3 separate regions of the Homo sapiens genome follow, and regions 1 and 3 are each linked to region 2. The links come from fine-mapping of genetic effects on gene expression. A gene starts in region 2. Each other region holds a variant in brackets. All regions are shown on one strand. Distances are between the middles of the regions.

Region 1 (5,636 bases), 75 kb after region 2:
CCCCAGTGCTCTGCTCAGAGCGGCTGTGATCCAGCTCCGACACCCACGGGGTGAAGTCATGGGGATTAACTGACTTAACTGTGCTGAGCAGTTCTCCCAGGAAAGGCCGGGAGGCTGCTCATCTTAAGTCCGTGTTCCAGATCTGAATTTAGGAATAAATTCATACTCAGAATTTTTGAAAACCTCTAGCAAAATGAATTTATACTAACCCATAACCACTTCTCTCTGGGTCCTTCTCATGTGACCTGATTTTTTTTAAGTGTTTCACTGCTGAAATGTTTGAAGTCCATGGAAATGGTAAATAGCATAACCAAAATGAAAGGAATTTACACGGATTTAAGAAAAGTTTCTCAGCTGCTCAGCTAACACCATGAGAGAAGGTATCAGCTGCTGGGACTGAAATATTTAAGCCAAGATGCCATCTCCCTGCACACTGGCGTGCGCGGCTGCCTGCAGGCTCTCCCTCTCCCACGTCCGTATCTCAGGTACCCCCTCATCCACGTGCCCCATTGACAAAGAGACGCTCTGTCCTTAGACGTGTTAATTTACTCAGCTAAGCACAGGCCTGGAAAACTGTCCAGTGAGCGAGTCCTGCCATCTGAGGATCCTTAGTCTCTAAGGACAGTCATTGCTCCCTTGTCCATCTGTCCTTTGGACCCCTCTGGGGAGCTCGTGCACCTCACCAAAGTCCCAGGTTCAAGTCCCAACCTGTGAGGCTCTGTGATCTTCTGCAGGTATCACCTGGTGGTCCCCAGGGGACCCCTAAACTCAGCTACCCCCTGCCCTGGGCCTGGGCAGGGCCTCCGCCGCCCCGCCCTGGGGGCCAGTCCTTGCTGCAGTCTCTGCAGAGAGGGCTCCACCAGAGCCAGAGTCACCTCTCAGCCGCTACGCTCCTGGCCTCTGTATGCAGGAAGCATACCCGGGCAGTAAGATGCAGAGAGAAAGGACCAGCCTTGGGAAAATCACTTGCCTTCCTGCACCCCCACATGAGACTTCTGTCTAGAGAGACTTCTGGGGCATAAAGGGGCTTCCAGAAGTGACTTAGTCCAAGCCCCTGCAGAGCCCACGCAGGTTTACCACATGACCTTCCTGGGCATCTACCCTGAATTCCTCCTGGACTTGTTTAAGTTTATCTCCGTTCTCCAGCTGTCCTAGACCACAAGGCCACTGAGTGCTCTCTCTTCTTTCCTTACCTCAGGACAGACGGCACCCACCTCTTCTAGTCTCCCTGCTCCTCTGCCTCCCTTTGGGTAGGCTGGAAATCTATGGGTCATGGACAAAACATGGCCCCCGCTCTTTTCTTGATAAGCAAAAGCAGTTTTGAGGCCTCAAAGAATTTTTGAAAACCTCTAGCAAAATGAATCACAAGATTTGGAAGCTGTATCTTCAGAAAGTCCGTTTTGTGGCTGGGGCCAGGTTTTTGCCTCTGGCATGGGTTGGGGGCTGTCCCCGGGACTTGATCAAGGGGTGGGAGGTAAGCGGTGCTGTGTCCTCTCCCAGGGGAGCCTCCTCACCAGGAGGTGTTGAGGAGCCAGGGCAGGGGGGCCGCCTGGCCTGCAGGACCAGAGCTAGGCCGCCGAGGGCCTCTCTCCCTCCACCTGCAACTGTCTATGGCCTCGGCTCCCCTGGAGCTGGGCAAGAGCCATCCATGAGAGCGTCTGGGTCGGTTAAGGTCCCTTTCTGTACCCTCGCGATTCTCCTCTGAGGCCTATGTCTCTGTCCGTCTCCTCCAGCCCCCTCACACCCTGGCTGCACTGCGTCCTTCTCTCCTGGAGGCCCCTGGCTGAGCCCCCCGCCGTGGTCTTGGCCTCTTCTCCAGGAACATGAGAGGCTGGGATTACATCGCGTTCCCACAGGCCCACTAATTTTGTGCCACTGCCACAGTTTTGCACTTTTTCATTCATTATCTACTCAATAGTTTCAAATCTACAGTTTCTGTCTTTAGTGAACGTAATTTAAATGAACACTTTATGTGATTATTCTAAATGGAAAACCAGCTTCCTTTGCTTTATATAGAAGGAAATGATAATAAGTATATACGGAAAACAAAATAATGTCAGTAAGCGCTGCCTGGGCCTCTCTGGCTCTGAGAAGGGTCTGCTGTCTCCTTTTCTGTTTCCCTCACAAGCCCTGAAATCCCTCAGACACCATCAGTGGCACATAGCAAAATTCTGGCAAACCCTTGGAGATCTCTGTGGTCCATTTCAAAGCTACTATTTTCACTATTCTTCTGTTTCTTTCTCCCCTCTCCTCCCCAGATGCCTTAGCTACTTCCCCGTGATAATTACAACACACCCACAAATACAATCCTCTGGTCTAAAAGTACCTGCTTAAAAAGACTTTTTATTTTCCAGCGCCCGCCCACAGCAAGGCACCAGGGTTGTGTTTTGGGAGAGATAAGGGGCTCTGTTTCCAACATCCCTCCCCACAGGCCCTGACAGATACCACGGTGGTTCCTGATAGGAAATCCCCTCTGCCTCATGGAAAACCCAGAGAAGGAAGCCGAGTGGCCTGGGTAGACTAGGCAGCCTCCACCCGAAGCTACAGAAATAAAAACAGCCCATCTTCTCGGGGCCCCAGGCCCCGAAGCCCAGGGCCCTGATGGGCGGGAGATGAGTGCCCCACTCACAGGGACCTGTCCTGCGAAGACACAGGTGCAGCCACGGCTGTCCCCTGCCACTGTGTCTGCACCACACTCCACCAACCACAGCTGTCCCCTGCCACGGCATGTGCACAGCACTACCCCAACCACTGCTGTCTCCTGCCACGGCGCCTGCACCACACTCCACCAACCACAGCTGTCCCCTGCCATGGTGCCTGCACCACACTCCACCAACCACAGCTGTCCCCTGCCACGGCACCTGCACCACACTCCACCAGGCCCAGAGTGGCCCTGACCCAGGACTGCGTGATAAAGCAGAGGAAGAAGTGTCCCTGTCTCCATTTTGCAAATGAGAAAACCATGTCCAAGAGGCTCTGCCCAACATGGAACCCAGGCACGTGTTTCCAATTCAAACACGCACAAAACACTTTGACCCCCTCTCGTACCTGTCATTCCTTCTTTCCCTTCAGCTTCTTCAAAGATGATGCCAAGTTCAAGGTCACGACAACTCCCCGTGACGGAGCCTCTGCTTCTTTCCCCACGTGGGTCCACGTGAGGCTCTGCCCCACCAATGCCCGGTGCCTTCTAGAACTCAGTAGCTCAGCTGTCCACTGCCACTCATGAAGCTGATCTGAGCCCCTCAGTGGGAAGGGCAGAGTCAGTCTGGTGAAGGCCCTCCCGCCTCACAGGGCGGTCCTGAGGCTTCCCCTCCTGGCAGTGGTTGGGCTGACCCCTCCTGCCTTCCCCTCCCTGGAGGGCCCCGAGGTCATC[A/C]CCTCCCATCTCCACCCACCCTATCCAACCCTGGGGTGGCAGGTCATGAGTGACAGCCCCAAGGACACCAAGGGATGAAGCTTCTCCTGTGCTGAGATCCTTCTCGGACTTTCTGAGAGGCCACGCAGAACAGGAGGCCCCATCTCCCGTTCTTACTCAGAAGCTGTCAGCAGGGCTGGGCTCAAGATGAACCCGTGGCCGGCCCCACTCCCCAGCTCTTGCTTCAGGGCCTCACGTTTCGCCCCCTGAGGCCTGGGGGCTCCGTCCTCACGGCTGGAGGGGCTCTCAGAACATCTGGTGGGCTCCGTCCTCACGGCTGGAGGGGCTCTCAGAACATCTGGTGGGCTCCGTCCTCACGGCTGGAGGGGCTCTCAGAACATCTGGTGGGCTCCGTCCTCACGGCTGGAGGGGCTCTCAGAACATCTGGTGCACGGCTCCCAACTCTCTTCCGGCCAAGGATCCCGTGTTCCTGAAATGTCTTTCTACCAAACACAGTTGCTGTGTAACCACTCATTTCATTTTCCTAATTTGTGTTGATCCAGGACACGGGAGGAGACCTGGGCAGCGGCGGACTCATTGCAGGTCGCTCTGCGGTGAGGACGCCACAGGCACCAGCGTGCTTCTCCTCAGGACATGCACTTGTAACAACATGTCTGGCCCTTTTTTACCCCCTTGTGTTGGTTTCCTACAACTATGTAGCAAGGTACCAAGACTGGGTGGCCTGAAACAGCAGAAATGTGTCGTTTCTCAGTTCTGGGGGCCAGAAGTCTGAGCCACAGGTGTGGGAATGTTAGGGGTGGCAAATATCCGAGTTACTGGCAAGTCGGCAAAAACCTCAATTCTTGCCTCCTCAGAAGAAAGGATTCAACAGAGGGGCATACGGCAGAAAAAGAGACCAAGGCAAATTTCAGAGCAGCGGTGGAAGTTTATTAAAAAGCTCTGGAGCAGGAAACAAAGGGAAGAACAACTGGAAGAGACCCAAGCGGACCCCTGGAAGGACGAGTGCAGCCTTTGACCTTTGGATTTGGGGCTGGAAACATTGGCATCCTTCCGGGGTCCCGTTCCTCTTCCGTGCTTTTTCCCTCAGGGTGGGCCGCCTGCACACGCGGTGCCCTCCTCAGCCCCGGGAGGCCAACACCGAGCCCTGAGTTTAGGAAGTGGTGGGTGTCCCTCCCTGAGACTTTCTTCCCTTTTCCAGTGGAGTGCCCTCAAAGGCCGTACTCCTCCGTTTTGTCTCTTAATGCCCATCCCCGAGCCTACTCGCCCCATTTCTGAGACTTTGTTGGAAGCCGATTACACATCTCGAGACTTTTTATCTGTTTGGGGAATCACCTCTCCCTGGAGCCTGTGATCAATGATTGTTTTTAGATAGGCGGTGGGATAACTGCTGAACTCTCACCCGATGATCCCCTGACATTCCTGGTGGGTGGCAGGGGAGCCCTCTGCTGCCCGGCTGGTGCCTGATTAACCACCTGCAACAGGCAGGGCCCTGAGGGAGAATCCCTCCACATCTCTCTGATCATCCAGGGCAGCCAGGACCCCTCCGTGCAGTCTCTGCCTCCGTCTTCACATGACCGCGGTCTCTGGGTCTCTGTGTTTGTGTCCCCTTCTCTTAGGACAACAGTCAGTGGATTTCCGGCCCACCCTAAATCCAGCTGATCTCCCCTCGAGATCCTTAATTACATCTGCAAAGACCCTATTTCTAAATAAGGGCCCATTCACATGACTGGGTGTTAGAGCCTGGACATACCCTTTTGGAGACCCCCTTCAACCCACGGCCCCCTCACCAGTGAACGGTAAGTTCTGCATGGACAGAGACCATTTCTGTCCTGTTCATATCACATCATCAGAGCCTTCGCAACAGTTATCCAAACACATTTACTGAATGAATGTGTACATTTAACTCAAAATACTGAAGTTTGACCTTTTTCTCCTCTGTAGTTTAAGATAAATTTCCACTCTACTTTCTAAAATACAGTAGATGACTATTTCTCTGGGAATCTAAGTATCAGAAGCATAAAAATAACAAAGTGGCTTTTAAAGGGACTCAAAATGAGACCCACCATGATATTCATGCCAACATCACAAATGACAGCAACATATCCTCAACTTTTGCTTATTTCTTCCCAAACATTTTATCCTAAATTGTGTATCATACTAATTTTTCCAAATACATTGTTGGTTTATTTTCAGTCACTGGGATTGTTTGCATTTGGACATCAAATTTGGACCTGGCAGGGTGGCTTAGGTCCATAATCCCAGC
Region 2 (5,636 bases):
GATATTAAGTTTAGTAATATCTGGGTAGTGATTTTATTTTCTTGTCTAAACTTTACTATTTCTTCCACCTTCATATTCCCCCATCCCACTTTAAATCATCTTTTTTTTAAGGCAAACAACTATTCTGTTAAACAGACAATGATCTACGTTTTTAAGAGAAGGAAAGAAAAAAAATGAGAAGGAAAGTAAAAGCTAAATTCTAAGAAATCTGAGGTGATAGCAATCGCTGTTCTTAATATTGGTGTGGTTTGATTGACTGTGGTGCTGAAACAAATCTATTTAGAGGGTCTTGTAGAATGAGACCCCCATGTCTTCTGCATCATCAGGACCCTTTGGGCTGTTTGACCAGATAAGCTGAGGGGAGCCCTGCCCTTGTTCATGGCTACACTGCCCTAAAGCCTGAGATTCAACTACTGAAAGACCTCAGGCCTCCTGTCAATCCCTCACCTGTGGTCTACACAGGGGTCCCCAACCCCCGGGCCACAGACCAGTACCAGTCTGTGCCCTGTTAGGAACTGGGCTTTACAGAAGGAGGTGAGCAGCAGGTGAGTGAGCATTACTGACTGAGCTCTGCCTCCTGTCGGATCAGCGGCAGCATTAGATTCTCATAGGGGCACTAACCCTATTGTGAACTGCGCATGCAAGGGATCTAGGTTGTGTGCTCCTTATGAGAATCTAACTAATGCCTGACGATCTGAGGTGGAACAGTTTCATCCAGAAACCATCCCCACTGCCGACTCCATGGAAAAATTGTGTCCCACAAAACTGGTTCCTGGTGCCAAAAAGTTGAGGACCACTGGTCTACACAGACCACTAGTCAGAGGAAAGTAAGGAGAGGGCTCTGGTCGGCCACACCCCTGCAATCTGACTTGGACTCTGTTCATGCTCAATGGCATCAAACCTTTGTACTTTGTCTCTGTGATTCACAAGGCATAACAGCCCTCTGCTTCATGACCAATTCAAGTTCACTACCTTAGTAGGGCTTCCATCTTGTTTATTTTCTGTGCAACTATCAGTCTCTCTAATTTAGAAAGCACTTCATTTAGGACAAACTAATATTCCACCTCTCAAGACAGCATATTCTGTTATAAACAGGCTTCGAATACCCCTTATCAGGCTTCAGATAACCTTAATCTTATTCCTCTCCCCTTCTGTCGGACTTAAAGTGCTGCAAATACATCAGCTGCTGTAATCTGATCAAAACTTGGCTCCTTAAATTTAAGTTAACATTTTAAAAGGAGAGGGTGAACGTTCATTGTTTCTACATCATTAAAACCTCTTACTTTGTAAAGTTTACATGTAGATTTCTCTGTCTTCTCCACTGGCTACCACCCAGTCCTGTGTTACAGTGACGAGTAAAATTCAGGTGTACATGTGGTATTTGTTCATAATAGTCACAGTAAAAATAATCACTAACATTAAAAAAAAAAAAGATTGTTCCTCTTCACGTGGTCTGTTCAAGTGACTCAGAAAGCAGAGTGATGCTGTTCTTTTTGAAATCAGCACGAATAGCCTGGACTAACAAGCATCCTTCGTCTTTGAAGGAGCTTAGCTTATAACATAACTCTGTCCAAGGGTGTAGAAGACTATCTTTGCCTTATTCTTCTCTTAGCCTCTCCCTTTTTTTCCAAATTCTCTATGAAAATATTAGTCACACTATAAAGTAGAAGACTATAAAATGTCCACTGAACGTCAACACTGATAAGTCATAGCACATTATTAAACGCTGCTATAAGGATTATTTGAATTACTAGAAAAGCATAACTCTCAGTTAAACTTTCAATTTTGAGGTCTTTGTAGATTGATATGCAGCTGTGAGAAATAACATAGGAAGATCCCTTGCATCCGTTACCCATTTCCCGCAGTGGAAACATCTTGCAAGACCATAATACAAAATCACACCCAGAATGTTGACAGTGATAAGATACAGAACATGCTATTATCACAAGTCTCTCTCATGTTGAAAGGCATAATTTTTAAAAGCAAAACAATTTAAAATTTTTTAAATGTTGGACAGAGAGACCAATGGGGTGAGAAATCAAAGATCAAGAAGCAGTTCGAAATGTTGCTTCCATTGAAGAATTAAAAATTCAAAGATACTGAAAAACTGGCACAGAAAAAAATAAAGGGCAAATGGATCTGAAAAGGTCATCCCAAAACAGAATTATTGTAAGTTATTCTATTCATTGTGGTGCCCAAAGAACTAAACTCAAGGGAGGGCAAAGAAGATGTCTGCGCACTTTACCCTGCCAGGCATTTATGAGGTTAGCCACGGTTACCTAAGTCTGAAGTCCTCAGAAACTCTTAACAGCCTAACGAAAAGTGAAGCAATGAATATCTACAGAAAAATCAGCACTCTGGGCCTAAAACAAAGGTGAAAACTAAAGGAAGGAAAGGTTTTTGCTTCAGTGCTTCAATTAATGGCAGTGAGCTACTGCAAATCAACTGAGCTTTACCTTGAAAGAAGCAACATTACAGAGGAATAGATTACAGCCTGTCCACATCTGCTCCCAACTCATCTACTTGGACATTGAAAGAAACAAATGTTTCTTTACAAATGTCTTCTCTTGCATTACAATTTTATTAAGAATTGTTTGCTGTGGGAAAAGGGCCAAATATGATTAGTAAAATTTCCTACAACAATGCATAGGCGTGTAGTCACTTACCATGCTGATGAGAACGTGCCCTTCCTGCCCTGTAGTAATGACTGAGGAGCCTCCCAGCTGAGCTTTATCACAGGGCCCGGAAATGACTCCACCTGAGGGCTGGAGCTTTCTTCACTTAAAGCAGTATAGCTTCTTTTTAGTTTTTTTAGTTATCTGGTCTCAGAGTAGCTGTGTTGGGCCTGAACAACCCGGGATAAAGTTTGTACACAGCTGCAGATGAACTACTGAGAGCTTATCCAAATCTGCGTCCAACTTATAACTATGTTGAAAAGAACATGTGTCTTTTAAAAATCACCCTTTTGGGTTAAGAATTTATTTAGCATTGGCAGAGAAAAGGAAGGAGTATGAGTAAAATTTTCTGCAACAGCAAAGTAGCTTTTTCTATTGCATGAGTACTATGTGAATATCTTCTTAAATAAATTTAAACAATCCCTGAATACATACAGCAAACCAAGACAGTGTCCTTTTTACATCTGTGTCCTATGCATGCCTCTCAACCACTACCACATCCAAACATATGGGAATTTTCTGTTTTTATTATTATTGTCTTTTGAACTTTTATATTATTATACATAATATATACTTATGTTATTATTTTTTATTAATTGCACTAAGATCAGATCACACATCTTAACTGAGTTCTCTCCTTATATATTTGCTAAAGCTTCCTTTATATTCTACTATATGGTCAATTTTTGAAAATATTCCATGAGTGTTGAAAAGAATGTGCATTCTACATTTGTTGGATGCAATATTTTAGATAGACCGATCATTCAATCAATCAATCTATTAAATCAAATGGATTTATTGTGTAGTCCAAATTTTACGTATCAATTATTTCAAAAGATGTATTAAAAGTTTTCATTATAATTGTGAATTTACCCATTATTTCTTTTTCTGTCAATTTTTCCTTTATACATTTTGAGGCCATGTTATGAAGAGCACATAAATTTTAAATTATTATATTTTCAAAAACTTTAACAATTTTTTATTTTTAAATTACCCTCCTTATATACATTAATTATTTTTACCTTAAAGTTTTTTTTTTTTTTTTTTTGAGATGCAGTCTTGCTCTGTCGTCCAGGTTGGAGTGCAATGGTGCGATCTCAACTCACTGCAACCTCCACCTCCCAGGTTCAAGCGATTCTTCTGCCTCAGCCTCTCAAGTAGCTGGGATTACAGGTGTGTGCCACTATTCCTAGCTAATTTTTTTGTATTTTTGATAGAGACAGGGTTTCACCATGTTGGCCAGGCTGGTCTTGATCTCCTGACCTCGTGATCTGCCCGCCTTGGCCTACCTTAAAGTTTTTATGATCAAATATTAATATTACTACTTTAATACAGTTTTTTGGTTCACATTTGAATGATGTATTTTCCCATCGTTTTACATTCTTAGAAACTTAAAACCTTTCCATATTCTCATATTTTGGATGTGTTCTTTGTATGCATGATATAACTGAATTTTTTTTCTATTTTTGTATTTGAATTGGAGAATTCAGCTCATTACATTTAATATAATAACTAATATAGTTGGGTTTAGATATAGAGTACTATTTTATTTTGTGCTTTCTGTTTGTCTCCATTTTCTAAGTTCTCTTTTCTTCCTGATCTTCTTTTGAATTAATGACATGTTTTGTTAGCATAGTAACAATTTTATTATTCAGTAATCAAAACAAAATTTCTGTTACTCAAGAATCTTGGTTTCTACCAATTCTTCCTTACAACTTTGAGAAAATGAAGAAACCATAGTGTTCTTCAGCAATTTTCTCCTGAACTTATTATAAATTATACTTTCTCTCATTTTGATCTTCATAAAGTCAATCCTATCTGTCTCTGTCAATAACTCCCCAAATGTTTAGCATCCTGGTAGTTCCATATAATGAAAAGAAAAATTAAGCCAGTTCCATTTTATAAAATCAGAATGATATTTATTTTGTTGCTGTATCAAATTTTCTCCCACTGGTCCCAGATATTTTCAGTTTGAAACAAGATGAGGGAAAAATCAGATAATGTGAGTATCTCATTTCTAGTCCACTGATGTACTCAGTATCTTTCATTAACTTTTAAAAATTGTCAGTCTGACATGGAGCTATGATTAACTTAGATTTACGTAGGAATTAGAAAGAAACTAGAAAAATCTCTTTTGTAGTATAATTTAAGAAATGCATCTTATCTTTTAGTAATTCCTTATTTCTTTGAAAGACTAAGTCTTAAAGAAAAAAGTTTCCTCAAGTGATAATAATTGGAATTTCACGTCTGAAGAGGCCTTCTGGGGTGATAGTTTTTGTGTCAACTTGGCTAGGCTGTGGCACCCAGTTATCCAATCTAACACTAGTCTGGGTATTGCTGTGCAGGCATTGTGGAGGTGTGGTGAACATCTCCAGTAAACTTTGACTTTAAGTAAAGGACATCATCCTCAATAATGTGAGTGGGCCTCATCCAATCAGTTGAAAGACCATAAGAGTAAAATGGAGATTTCTCTGAGGAAGAAATTTCTCCTAAGGATGGCACCTTTAGTTTCAGCTTTAGCTGTTACTCAGGAGTTTCCAGCCTGCCAGTCTGCCAGCCTGCCCTACTGATTCCAGACTTTACAGCCCCACAATCACACTAACTTATTCCTTAAAATAAATCACACACACAATACTGACTCTGACATACTTGGTGGCCACCCTTAGGTTCTGAGGGTGAAAAAATGGCAGAGTGATAAAAGTGTGGTATTTATAGTTACGATGTCCTTGTTCAAAGTTCCTTTCTTGGCCAGGCACAGTGGCTCATGCCTGTAATCGCAGCACTTTGGGAGGCCAAGGTGGGCAGATCACCTGAGGTCAGGAGTTCAAGACCAGCCTGGCCAATGTGGTGAAACCCCATCTCTACTAAAAATACAAAAAATTAGCCGGGTGTGGTGGCAGGCACCTGTAATACCAGCTACTCTGGAGGCTGAAGCAGGAGAATCACTTGAACCCTGGAGGC
Region 3 (5,281 bases), 110 kb before region 2:
TTTCTCTAGTGGGGACCACCAGATAGGATGATGAGGGGATAAAGAATTTCTTCCCACCTTCTTGGTGATGTCTTTGTCCCTGTGTCACTCTCATTGAAGTAGCTCCCCAGTCCCTACTGTGTCTCTCCATCTCACTCCTCAGTTTTAGTTTCTTCAGAACAATTGTGATCAGAGCAATTGCCTGAATTATTCACACCAAGTGAGTTATTTATCAGAGGAATAAAGGATGTTTGAGCCATTCCATATCAAGTATCATCTTGTTTTAAAACATTTTGCTGGACAGAAAGAAAAGTCATTATTTACAGCAAAACTACAAAGAGTTGGATACAGCCCCAAAACTCTGATAGGAGATTTAACCATACAGAACAAGAGTTCAGCAAGGATGCTGCAATTCACGAGGAAAGGCTAACCCAGGGTTATGAGAGAAATGTTAACATTGCATGGCGATAAAATGCCAAATACCTTGCTGTGGTTTGAATGTGTCCCCCAAAGTCCATGTGTTGAAAGTATAATCCCCAGTGCAACAGTGTAAAGACGTGCCCTCTAAGAGGTCACTAGGTCATAACGGCCCTGCTGTCATGAAGCACTGACCTTATTATTGCGAAAACGGGTCCATTATCGTGAGAGTGGGTTTATTGCAAAAGTCATTTCAGCCCTCTCTTGTCTCTCATCCTCTTACCCCTGCGCTCGTGCCCCCTGCCTTCTGCCATGGGATGACACAGCACAAATGTCCTCACCAGATGTGGGGCCTGTGATCTGGGACTTTCAAGACTCCAAGACTGAGCCAAACAACTTTCTGTTTTTTATGAGTCACTCAGTCTCGGCTATTCTGTTACACAACAGGAAACAGACTAAGACACACCCATATAATCCTCTCTGAATAAATGGGAATCCATTGTCAAGCAACAAAGAGAAATGCTGCCCGACTCTCTGGGGAAACACACCTTACCCCTCTTTTACCACCCCCACATAAGTAGGGAGCCAAAAAGATCAGCTTTCAGAGTTCTCAAAATGCCTTCTGAAAAGTCTGGTTAAGACCACACCTTCTGACCGGGAGTCTGGTTCGTTAAGACTGCTGTGACAAAGTACTGTACACTGGGAGGGTTATAAACAAAAGACATAGATAGCTCACAGATCTGAAAGCTAAAAGTCCAAGATCAAGGTGCTGGCAGATTCAGGGTCTGGCGGGGGCCTGCATCCCGTGTCACAGACAGCTGTCCTCTCACTGTCCTCATGTGGCGAAACAGGCACGCAATCTCTCTGGGGGCTATTTTATCAGAAGCACTGGTATAGTTTGGACATTTGTCCCTTCCAAATCCCATGTTCAAGTTTGATCCCCATTGTTGGAGATGGAGTCTAATGGGAGGCTTGGGGGCCATGGGGTAGACGCCTCATGAAGAGATGAATGCCCTCCCAGGGGAGGGGGGTAAGGTCTTACTCTATTAGTTCCCATGAGAGCTAGTTGTTAAAAAGAACCTGGCCCCTCCCCTCCTTCCTGCTTCCTGTCTCACCACACGATCTCCGCACACACCAGCTCCCCTTCACCTTCTTCCACACTTGGAAGCAGCCTGAGGCCCTCACCAGAAGCCCAGTCCTGAAACTTCCAGCCAGCAGAACTGTGAGCTGAATAAACTTCTTTTCTCTATAAATTACCCAGCTTCAAGTCCTCCTTTATAGCAACAATAAATGGACTAAGAGGGGCTCTAATCCCATTCATGAGGGTTCCACCCTCACGACCTAATCACCTCCACAGGACCCACCACCAAATAGCATCACCTTGGGGGTTAAGGCTTCATATACGACTTTGGTGGGGATGTAAAGATTCCATTCATTGCACAGGGCAAAGGGAGGCCATAGCAGCAGGGTCATAGTGTTCTGGGGCTGCTCACTGCCCCTCACTCCCAGGCCTGCCCCACCCCAGCCAAGGCCTTCATGCTGCTCTGGGCTACCTCTCCCAGGTCCTGCATCCCAAGCAAAGGTACAGACTCAATTGAGATCTCCTGAGACTCACTCCCTGCCCCTGCAACAAGATGGACATGTCCTTGTCAAGTTCTTCTCTAGGAAAATGTGGGCATCACATAGAGACTCGTACCTACCTGTGCAGAGGTTTTCCAGAGCCTCGATCACCCCCTCTGTCTCATCATTGGTTTCTGGCTTCAGTCTCACCTTCTTGGTGATGTCTTTGTCCCTGTGTCATTCTAATCAAAGTAGCTCCCCAGTCCCCACTGTGTCTCTCCATCTTACTCCTCAGTTTTAGTTCCTTCAGAACAATTGTGACCAGAGCAATTGCCTGAATTATTCACTTATTTTGTGGTATGTTTTCATATTTATTGACTGATTTCTCCAACACTAATCACCACACCTAGAAAAGCTCCCTAGTATGTGGTCAGTGCTCAATAAATATTTGCGGAATGAATGAAATTGAGTTCTAAGCATAGGCACAGTGGGGTTTTTTTTTTTTTTAAGTTTTTCTGTGCTCTGTTCTTATTTTCTGTGATCTGCAAACTATCTCTAAATCCTTATGAAAGATTGCGTCCAACACTGTTTTTTGCAGTGGGAAATTGAGAGGCCCATGTTGCACTCAAACAGAGCAGCAAAGCATTCGTCATCCCTCCCCTCAGGGCTGGGACTAACAGCAGGGCCTTCCTCAGCAGAGTACAGCTATGCCCAGCTGAGTGACAAATGCTCTAGTCAGAGAACACAGCAGCACAGGAGGCCAGCATGGTGGCCACAGGGGGAGTTCACGCGTGGCCGCTTGTGGACAGGTGCAGGGTGGCAGCCCTGAGGAGGTTCAGAACACCAGGGGCATCTTGAGGTAACAGCATCAGTCATGAACCAGGATATAAAAATCCATGCTGCTTATTTAAACAGGATGTGTAATCAGACGGTTGGAGTATCTA[C/G]AAAGAAGCCAGTCAGGAAACAATAAAGCAACCCAGAGGCTTTTAAACACAGGAAGTCGCTACCCTCCTAGGCTAGAGAAACAGAGGTAGCAGTGCTGGAGGCAGAGCCCGGGGTCCCTGGAAGAAGCAGCAGCCATGGAGGGCCTGAGGGAGGCAGCCAGGACGACTGGAGGGATGGAAGCTGCTGCTGTGTCCCCTAGAGAAGGGAAGAAAGGCACCTGGACTCCAGCTTCCCTTTCTGCTCTCAGCAGCGCCTCACAGTGGCCAAGTCCAGCTGGAAGGCAGCAGGCAGAGAGGGCAGCACCCAGGGCAGAAGAGGCCGCTCTCCTGGGCTACAGCAGAGCAGGAGAGGGAGGAGGAGGGGCACTGAGCAGACAGGAGTGTCAGTCAATCAGGCTGACCCTGGCCCCGCATCCTCAACGGGATGTTAATGAAATACCGCCTTCTTCTGTAGTTCAGGCTGATGGGGCAGGAATGCTGGGTTATGTAAGTGTCGCAGTGTTCACTGAGGGGGATAACACGAAAAACTTATTTGTTCCTGGGAAAATTTCTTAAATCTCATTAAGGCTTCTTAAGCATTCACAAGATTAAAGCCACCTTTGCCAGAGGTTAGGATTAATAGGTGGGGCTAAATAGCCTACCTGAAATTCAGTTCCAGAAATATTTACTGAGTATCTTTTATGTGCAACTGTTCCTAGGTTTTGTTTGTTTGTTTGTTTGTTTGTTTGAGACAGAGTCTCGCTCTGTCGCCCAGGCTGGAGTGCAGTGGCGCGATCTCGGCTCACTGCAAGCTCCGCCTCCTGGGTTCACGCCATTCTCCTGCCTCAGCCTCCCGAGTAGCTGGGTGGGACTACAGGCGCCCGCCACCACACCCGGCTAATTTTTTTGTATTTTTAGTAAAGACGGGGTTTCACTGTGTTAGCCAGGATGGTCTCGATCTCCTGATCTCATGATCCGCCCACCTCAGCCTCCCAAGGTGCTGGGATTACAGGCGTGAGCCACCGCGCCCGGCCCCTAGTATTTTTTTTTAAATCAGGCATGTAAGAATAAGTCCAAGAGTTCCACATTCAATTTTGTGAGGCTATATCTTCACATGTTCCCTTGGGCTGGGACTAAAACAACAGCCTTCCTTGAAACTAGGACGTGGGAGTGATGGTACTAGGGCAATTGCATCATGATGAAAGAATACCCGAGACTGGGTAATTGATAAAGAAAAGGGGTTCAATTGGCCCATGGTCTGCAGGCTGGACATGAAGCATGGTGCTGGCATCTGCTTCTGGGGAGGGCCACAGGGAGCTTACAGTGACAGCGGAAGGTAAGGGGGGAGCCCGTGTCTCACACCACAGGAGTAGGAGCAAGAGAGAGCAAGGGGGGACAATGCCACACTTTACACAACCGGATCTCCAGAAACTCACAGCGAGAATGAACTCATCACAAGGGGATGGTGCTGAACCATTCGTGAGTGATCCAGTCCATGATCCAATCACCTCCCACCAGGCCCTGCCTTCAGCACTGGGGATTACATTTCTGCATGGGATTTGGAGTGCACAAATATCCAAACCATATCAGTACTTTTTGCTGAATTTTGAGCCTCTGGTCCCAGGGGTAAACACCTTCCCAAACTGTGACCAAGAAGACGAAGGAAGGGTTTCCTATCTCTCTGGGGCATGGATTACACCAGGGAAAAACATCAGGTGTTTGAATGCCAATGGCTCTGCCATTTGTAGATTGTAACACATGATCAGAAGAATGCAACAGATTGAATATCCAGCTTTGCTAAGGTTGCAGAGTTTGGTCTGAGCTAGGAGTCCACATTCTTCACCAAGGTCTTCCTCAGAATCTATGTCATGGGACCTGTGCTTGCTGAAGGGAGATAAGCCACAGCTGAAGGCACTCCAACTTCAGAGAACACAGCTCCCTTTAATACGGAAAAGCTTGCTGCTATCAGCACCCCAAGTTTTCTCCTCTCCCAGCCTTGGGTTCTCTACATGCATGCACTGCAGGAAAAGAGGAGGTACTCAGCATTCAAAAGAGCAGTCAGGAATAATGGCCATTATGAAGAATAGTTGGAGGTTCCTCAAAAAGCTAAAAATAAAACTACCACTTGATCCAGCAATCCCACTACTGGGTATGTATCCAGAGAAAATGAAATCAGTATGTCAGAGAGATATCTGCACTCCACAGCAGCCAAGATATGGAACCAACCTGAGTGTTGATGAACAGATGAATGCATAAAGAAAATGTGTTATATATACACCATGGAATATTATATTGCTTCTTTTTCAACCAATTTGTTATTGGTGTATGGAAATGCAACTGAGTTTTGTATGTTGAGTTGGCATTCAGCACCTAATTCCCCAGCTTCCTTCTCCTGTTGCAGA

Alleles and levels. Positions count from the first base shown, and alleles are read on the strand shown. Sizes are in standard deviations (SD) of each study's normalised expression. Not every link is listed here.
With allele C in place of G in region 3, the expression in hypothalamus of the gene that starts at base 2,705 in region 2 is higher (small effect, 0.29 SD a copy in GTEx).

What was found. PIP is the estimated chance that this variant, and not a neighbour inherited with it, causes the effect.
Region 1: its variant is fine-mapped to the expression of TUBAL3 in lung (TOPMed, PIP above 0.99).
Region 3: its variant is fine-mapped to the expression of TUBAL3 in hypothalamus (GTEx, PIP above 0.99).

The regions. Positions count from the first base shown.
Region 1 is chr10:5,477,325-5,482,960 of GRCh38, forward strand. No RefSeq gene overlaps it. Among named protein-coding and RNA genes, the nearest start is that of CALML5, 19 kb to the right of the region's middle. RefSeq lists a cis regulatory region at 2,116-2,944 and an enhancer at 2,798-2,847. The variant A/C (reference allele first, on the strand shown) is at 3,374.
Region 2 is chr10:5,402,124-5,407,759 of GRCh38, forward strand. It overlaps TUBAL3 (tubulin alpha like 3), which reads right to left and starts at 2,705. Exons shown (of 4, transcript NM_024803.3): 1 at 2,667-2,705. The coding sequence starts at 2,669.
Region 3 is chr10:5,291,117-5,296,397 of GRCh38, forward strand. No RefSeq gene overlaps it. Among named protein-coding and RNA genes, the nearest start is that of LINC02561, 23 kb to the left of the region's middle. RefSeq lists an enhancer at 71-1,270. The variant C/G (reference allele first, on the strand shown) is at 2,901.